Homo sapiens: one gene and its partner. The gene in region 1 interacts genetically with each later gene. Each region holds a gene or a part of one and is shown in the gene's direction. Other genes may lie near its edges.

Region 1 (3,818 bases):
CTTCCCAGAGTCTCACCCATGAGAATGCATACGGGATCCCATTCTTGCACATCCTCACTTCCCCTGGGTGCATCAGACTTTTACATTGTAGCCATTTTGGTGAGGCTATAATGATATCTCATTATGAGTTTTGTTTCTATTTTCCTGATTACTAATGTCAACCAAGAAGAGGTGAAAGAGCAGACTGCAAAGCAGTTAGACAAGGCATTCCTGGGGTCTTAGAAACTGCAATTCAGGAGACACAGGTTCAGCTAAAGGCCAATAAGTGTTCTGAAGAGAGGAAGGGGAGTTGAGATTTTTAAAAGGAAGCTAAGGGCGAATACACAGTTGTTGTGAAAGAATTATCATTGTTGGAGGCGGTTGGCTTAGTACATGAGTCCGTTGAGCTCATTGGTTGTCGCTCTTCAGAAGGTGCAGCACTGGCAAAATCTAGCTGTTTTCCAGGATGTTGTGGTCATTGCAGTTGAGCCCAGTTCAGAGGTTCAATTCAAGTTCCTGTTTTTTGTTTTTGTTTTTGTTTTTCAGCATTTCAGGTCATGCAGGCAGTCCTTAGAATGGCTCCCTGACTCTACTTTAGAGCTCTGGACCAGAGTGATATCATTTTTGTATGTCACATTTCACATTAGTGGGATCGATTAGCTTTTCATAGCATCATTAGCTTTTAGGAATTTCTTTTTGTAAAGGATCTGCTCAAGTCTTTTGCCCATTTTTATATTTTTTCTTACTGATGTATAGGATATCCTGATGTATTCTGGATACAAGCCTGTTTCCTATACTTTCTACCTCTGTCTTGTTCTATGTGATGTTGGATCCCTTTTCTAGTCTTAATATTGTTGGAGAATTGATTCTTTCTTTCCCATTATTTTTACTACTTTAAGTTTGTTTTCTTACCTTTGGGGGAGGATGCTTCTATGAGCCTAGGTATTTCACCATGAGGCAAAATATGTTTATTTTTATTTTTATTTTTTTGTAGAGATGAGGTCTCACTATGTTGCCCAGGCTGGGCTCAAACTCCTGGGCTCAAGACACCCACCTGCCTCGGCCTCCCAAAGTGCTGGGATCACCGGTGTGAACCACCGTGCCTGGCCAAAGTGTGTATTTTTATGCTTATTTTGATAAATTATAGGTTATTTATTACTCTTTTAAGAGCTTTCTTTGGGAATTTTGTGTGTATGTGTTTGTTTGTTGAGACAGTGTCTCACTGTCACACAGGCTGCAGTGCAATGGCACAGTTATAACTCACTGCAACCTTGAACCCTCGGGTTCATACAATCCTCCCACCTCAGCCTCCCAAGCAGCTAGGACCACAGGTGTGTACCACCATGCCTGGCTAATTTTTTTTTTTTTTTTTTTTTTTTAGTGGTGGGGTCGCACTATGTTGCCCAGGCTGGTCTCAAACTCCTGGTCTCAAGTGATCCTCCTGCCTCAGCCTCCCAAAGGGCTGGTATCACAGGCATAAGCCACCGTGCCCATCTCGCTGTTGAGAATTGTTTGATGAACAAATTAAACAATCTTAAATTGTGAAAACTATGAATGAAATTAATTGTGTGTATCATATTTTCAGGCTCGTCTCAAGGAATTGGAGCAAGAAGCTCATTTTGTTGCAGGAGAACGGTTTCTTATAACGAGCAATAACCAGCTTCGAGAGGTAAAGCTGAATTTTGGTTCTTTCATAAAATGTATTTCTTATTCAGGAGTTAAAGGGAGATTTATTTTGAATTTATAAGTATTATTTTATGTCAACTATCTGAAAAGTAAGTTTTTCATGTTCTCTCACAAGTAATGAACACATTGAGATTCATTACTTCAAAGCCTTTAACTTGTAGAAAAGTACTAAATGAGAATTTAAGCATGTTGTAATGTCTGTTTGGGTGTGTCTTCTCTGGCTGTTGGCATGGGCTCTGCTATAGTAATGTTCTGTTTCTCTCAAATGTGAGATTCCCTCACCATGTTTAATTTGTTTTGTTGAAGATCCTCTTTGGCAAGTTAAAGCTGCACCTGCTGAGTCAAAGGAACAGTCTCCCCAGAACGGGGTTGCAGAAATACCCGTCTACATCAGAAGCAGTGGTAAGGTTTCAGAGTTATCCTTTTTCTTTTTAGAATGACAGCATGTCTGCACCACATGTGTGCTGACCTTCAGACCCACCCGAGACTCTCAGGCCGTCCCCTCATGCTGGCAGCAGTTTCTGCAGAAGAGGGGCTCCCCACACCAAGGTTGCTTTTCTCGCTATGGACCAAGGGAGAGAGGCAGACAGTACACTTTTGCAGAAGCAGTTAATTGGCTTGACTTCCTGAAAAGCATAATTTGGTGGAGTTTTGTTCTTAAAACCAATTTCTTGACAATCCAGTCACAACCTCTTTGCTTCGTGTCCCCAAGAGGAACTAGAAACGGGTCATCAGTCTTCTCCTTTCCTCAGATTTATTTTAGAGAATTTTACCTACCCCTCTCTTGAGAGGAATCAATTTTTTTTGAAGACAAGGAGTAGTGAGATTGTGCTGTGTTGGAGTGGGAGAGTATAGATCGATATTCAGAAGACAGTGAGTGCTTTTACTGAAAAGACACAGAGTGGAAGTCAGTAAATAAGTGAATTCATGTTATTGTGAATATTGGTTACTGTGGTGAGAACCAGCTTCTGAGGCTCCAGTTTGTGCTTTCTGTGCTCTGTCCAGCATTCGACTTTGTAACAGAGGAAGGTTTCCTTCTAAGATGTCTCCTCTGGCCCTATTCCCTCTCCAGCACCACGTTCCTCCAGTCTCCGCCCTGTGAGGGTGTCTTAGAGTACAGGCCCTCAAGGAGCCTGAGCTCGTTGACTGTGCCTGCACTTGGCCTTTGCTGGTTTAATGGACAGTTACTGGGTGAATAATGGACTCCCACAGAGGATGCTCCACTGGAGGGACTTGAAACTGCCCTCTTCCAAATCCTCTTCTTCTTCAAGCTTTCTCCACCTTAGTGAAGGGCCCGTCCTCCTTCCAGGTCCTTGGGAGCCAGTACAGAGTAGTAAGTAAGAACAAGGGCAGTGGGGTCAGCCATCACTGGCCAGCATGGTTTGGACAACATGAAAACATTGCTCGACTGCTCTGTGCCTCAGTTTCCTGATCTATAAAAGAAAAATAATAATAGTACTTTCCCTACTGGAATCTTGTAAGGCTTCAGTGTGTGTGCGTGTGTGTGTGTCCATGTGTCTGTGTGAAACAGCACTTAGGACCGTGCCAGACGTAAAAGCTCTCAAAAGACCAGTAAGCATCGGCCATTCTGAGAAAAGTCCTGTGAGTCGTCCTTGACTTTCCTTCCGCCTCCTCTCACAGTGAGTGTCAAGGTCTCTACCCACAAAATAGGTCCTGAGCATGCCTCCTTTTCCCCATTCCCCCGTCTCTACCATAGACCTTTCTCACTTAGATCCCTCCAACCATTCTTGCCCCTGCTGCTCATCCTTCACACCTAGAGTGATCCTTTAAAAGCATTGGAAAAGTCACGTTACTGCCCTAGGACTTCCAGTAGCTTCTATTGCACTTAGCATCAAATCTGAGCTGCAGAGCGTATCCCCAGGCCCGTGCTCTGGCTGTGCCTTCCTGGCCCGGCACCTCCTCTCTCCCCCCACTCCAGCGCCTGCTGAGCTGCCTGCAGCTCTGTGCGCCAGCTCCTTCTCTGTCCCCAGACTCGTGCCACAAATTTTTCCTGCTTGCTTCTGATTGTCAGCTTAAACATTGTGTTCAGGAGACCTCTGGTCACCCAGACTACAGTAAGGCCCCAAGTCACAGCTGTTTCTTCACCTTGAGTTATTTTCTGCACACAACTCACCACTACCTAAAGTTTATCT
Region 2 (3,818 bases), on another chromosome or scaffold:
CAGATTATAAGCCAATAAATGTATAAGAACAGGTAGCAATAAGTCATGAAGAAAAATGAAGCATGGTGAGGAAACTGGGAGACAATGAAGTATGGTGTTTTTGTTTTTATGTACTCAGAGGGAAGGTTACTCTTCCCTTCATGATCCATGCAAAGATCTAGGGGAAAGGTGTTCTTTCCCACAGGGAATACATACAGAGGATACCTATTCATATAATTTAATTTTGAATAGTACAGAACAGAGAGTTGAAGACAGAAAGTCTTATTCATTGCTACAAAACCCATGTTTCGATTATGGTCCTTTACTGGTATGTAGCATATACACAGACAGGCAAGAGCTGTGTTCGGAAAAGCCATTTAAAAAATTATTTCTAATTTATTGTTTCACAGCTACTTTAACATAAATGAATTTTATTGTTTCCCCTAGTTATAGTGGTGACCCAAATATTTAATTAAAGAAAGCCTCTGTTTCAACTTAATTTCTGAGTTTTTTTCCCATTTTTCTTTTTGTCTATGCCATAATCATTTTTCAGAGGAAGCAACAGATTCTGAAAACTTTGAAACCAAAAGGTACCTACCTATATTTGGCTGGTAGGTCTTTTATCTTGTTACCATGCCTGAATGAAAAACTTGGCCAGGTGTGGTGGCTCATGCCTATAATACCAGCACTTTGGGAGGCCAAGGAAGGGGGATCACTTGAGCTCAGGAGTTGGAGACCAACCTGGCCAATGTGGTGAGACCCTGTCTCTACAAAAAAATGAAAAAATTAGCTGGGTGTGGTGGCACTCACCTGTGGTCCCAGCTACTTGGGAGGCTGAAGTGGAAGGATCACTTGAGCCCTGCAGGTCAAGGCTGCACACTTACCTTTATAACTTTTAAGAGATTGCAAGGAAGTTACAAATCGTTAAGCTATTCCTATATATCATATGACCACTTCTTGGAATTAAGCACTCAGTTTTAAAATGCTCTTATTTTCTGTCATACTCATTTCATTAAGAATAGTCCAGATATTCCTTATTATAAACTAAACTGTGAAAATTTCTTTTCCTTTCTTTTTTTTTTTATTACCTAGACCTTTTCTGGCAGCTGAGAATTTTGAACTTGGTAAATTGATAAACTAGGAAACTGATTTTATATAACCTAAATCCTCAAACTTTAGAGGGAGAGAAACACAGTTCTGGGAGCTGTGAATGTGATGAGGAAAAAAATTGATGAGGCAGCTGAGGAGAGACCCTGAAGTCAAGAGAGTGCTGCAAAGGAAAGGATAATTAATAGGTAGGGCCTATGATTCCTAGCAGACACAATATTGGTGTGTATATTCAGGGCTCAATAGGATTTATAACCATAGGATTGATAGCCAGCTTAACCTGTTTCTTCCCTCTAAATTTTCTGGCACAACCTCTCGGTAAAAATTGTTCAAAAATAGATTTTATGTTACAGAAATCATTCTTCCATCATCTTTCCTAAAAGAGTTATTCTGGCCAGGTGTGGTGGCTCATGCCTGTAATCCCAGCACTTTGGGAGGCCGAGGCGGGTGGATCACAAGGTCAGGAGATCGAGACCATCCTGGCTAACATGGTGAAACCCTGTCTCTACTAAAAAATACAAAAAATTAGCCAGGTGTGGTGGCAGGCGCCTGTAGTCCCAGCTGCTTGGGAGGCTGAGGCAGGAGAAGGGCGTGAACTCGGGAGGCGGAGCTTGCAGTGAGCCGAGATTGCGCCACTGCACTCCAGCCTGGGCGACAGAGTGAGACTCCATCTCAAAAAAAAAAAAAAAAAAGAGTTATTCTGTAATGCCATTATTAAAACTTGGAAATGAGGTTTTTGAGAAGGAAATATTGACTTTTCTTTTGAATTGTAGCTTTGTATAGATTTCTCTTCGGTCTTTTTGGTAGAAACTCAAATTTCCTTTTCAGAGTTCATGTTCTTACCATGGCTTGTATATAAATACTAGGTTGACTGTCAATATGGTTACATCACTATTTGACCTGCCATAGTAGATTGCTGAATTTGTCCTTGTGTTAATACTCATTCACATAAAAACCATAATACAAGGCAGCATTTAGATCCTGTGAAGATAATGACCAGGGCTTTCCCTGTGTATATATATAAATTGTATCAACTTGTTTTCTCTTACTAGTTTTTTTTATTTCAGGCTGAAAGAATATTCTCAGAGGTTAGAAGGATTGAGAATTATAGAGTTGAAGGCATGGAGATCTACTCTACAACACTTTGGCATCTTCAAAAAGATGTTGCTCTTTCAGTTCTGTCAAAAGACTTAACAGACATGGATAAAAATTCGCCAGAGGTATGTTAACCAAAATACTTTGCTTATATAGTTACCTTTTTGATCACCCTCAACAGATAGAGATGAACCAAGCAATTCAAACACTATTTAGTGTCACCCACGCTTATTTCTTTTTTTTCCTCTCTCTCTAGTCAGGGACTCAGAGAGGAAGAGAAAGTCCTAGAATGTGTGGTGCAGATTCACAAATAGAAAAATCACAAAGCAGCTATTTCATTCAGGATTTATCGAGATTTGACTACGTTAAATTTGCTGTTGTCACCAAGATTAGGGTTCGTTGAGCAGAAGTTACATAGATTGAAAAAATTAATAATTTTAAATTAAAATAAATTAGTATTGTCATTGTAAGACATAGGTGCAATTAATGTACATGCTCTAATCTTGTAAGATTGTATTTCATTGCATCTCAAAAATATTTAATGATACTTTTGTAACATATCTAAGCTTAGAATTAAACACAGTCAACTCCCATTATTTGCGGTAATTCTGTAGTCAACATGAACACTGAATTAGTGCTACTGAACCAATGTTCCTGGGAGTGATGGAGAGTTTGAAACAGAGATAGATTGTGGATTATAATCTTGAATCCTAAAAATAACTCATCCTGGTAGATCCTATTTTCTTTACAAAAGAGAGAATGCTGCTGGGTGTGGTGGCTCACACCTATAATCCCAGCACTTCGGGAGGCTGAGGCAGGCGGATTCCTTGAGCTCAGGAGTTCCAAGACCAGCCTCGGCAACATGGCAAAACCCTTCTCCACAAAAAATACAAAAATTAGCCAGGTATGGTGGCTGGCATCTGTGGTCCCAGCTGCTCGGGAGGCTGAGACAGGAGGATCACTTGAGCCTAGGTGGCGGAGGTTGCATTGAGCCAAGATCACACCACTGCCCTCCAGCCCGGACAACAGAACAAGACCAGATCTCAAAAAAAAAAAAAGAGAGAGAATGAGGTTCAGAGGTGACTTGCCTGAAGCCATCCTACTTAAAAGTGCCAGCAGTGGGATTCAAATTCTGTCCAACTGTCCCCAGAGCCAAAGCTTCTTGCACTACACTAAACTAGCCCACAGAGTTTCTGTCCCTGGTCATCTCTGCATGAGAGCTAAAACAAGAAGGTAGAGTCACATTATTCAACCTCAAATGAGAACATACCTTTTGATGACTATGAAAGCACTGCAAGTATTGATTTTGGTTTTACAAATAAATTTTAGCAATCAGACAAATTCACAAATATGGAATCTGTGAATAATTAGAATTGAGTATCTACTGAAGCTCCTCCATTTTTGTCTTTCTGTTCTAAGTTGAGGCTTGATTTTAGTCATAGATTTGGTTTTAGAAAAAGTAAAATTTTAATTCTGTTTGGTTTTTGTTCCCATTTTTTTAAGGCCTGGTGTGCTGCAGGGAACTGTTTCAGTCTGCAACGGGAACATGATATTGCAATTAAATTCTTCCAGAGAGCTATCCAAGTTGATCCAAATTACGCTTATGCCTATACTCTATTAGGGCATGAGTTTGTCTT

Evidence for each region.
Region 2: changes in POLN (region 1) and CDC27 together harm fitness more than expected from each alone (negative genetic interaction), as found in Homo sapiens cells (one large-scale study listed by BioGRID).

The regions. Positions count from the first base shown.
Region 1 is NC_000004.12:2,168,928-2,172,745, reverse strand, and holds part of POLN (DNA polymerase nu), read left to right. Parts: intron 1-1,564; coding exon 1,565-1,648; intron 1,649-1,971; coding exon 1,972-2,067; intron 2,068-3,818. UniProt on the Homo sapiens protein: DNA polymerase with very low fidelity that catalyzes considerable misincorporation by inserting dTTP opposite a G template, and dGTP opposite a T template. Is the least accurate of the DNA polymerase A family (i.e. POLG, POLN and POLQ).
Region 2 is NC_000017.11:47,137,227-47,141,044, reverse strand, and holds part of CDC27 (cell division cycle protein 27 homolog), read left to right. Parts: intron 1-2,153; coding exon 2,154-2,306; intron 2,307-3,684; coding exon 3,685-3,818. UniProt on the Homo sapiens protein: Component of the anaphase promoting complex/cyclosome (APC/C), a cell cycle-regulated E3 ubiquitin ligase that controls progression through mitosis and the G1 phase of the cell cycle.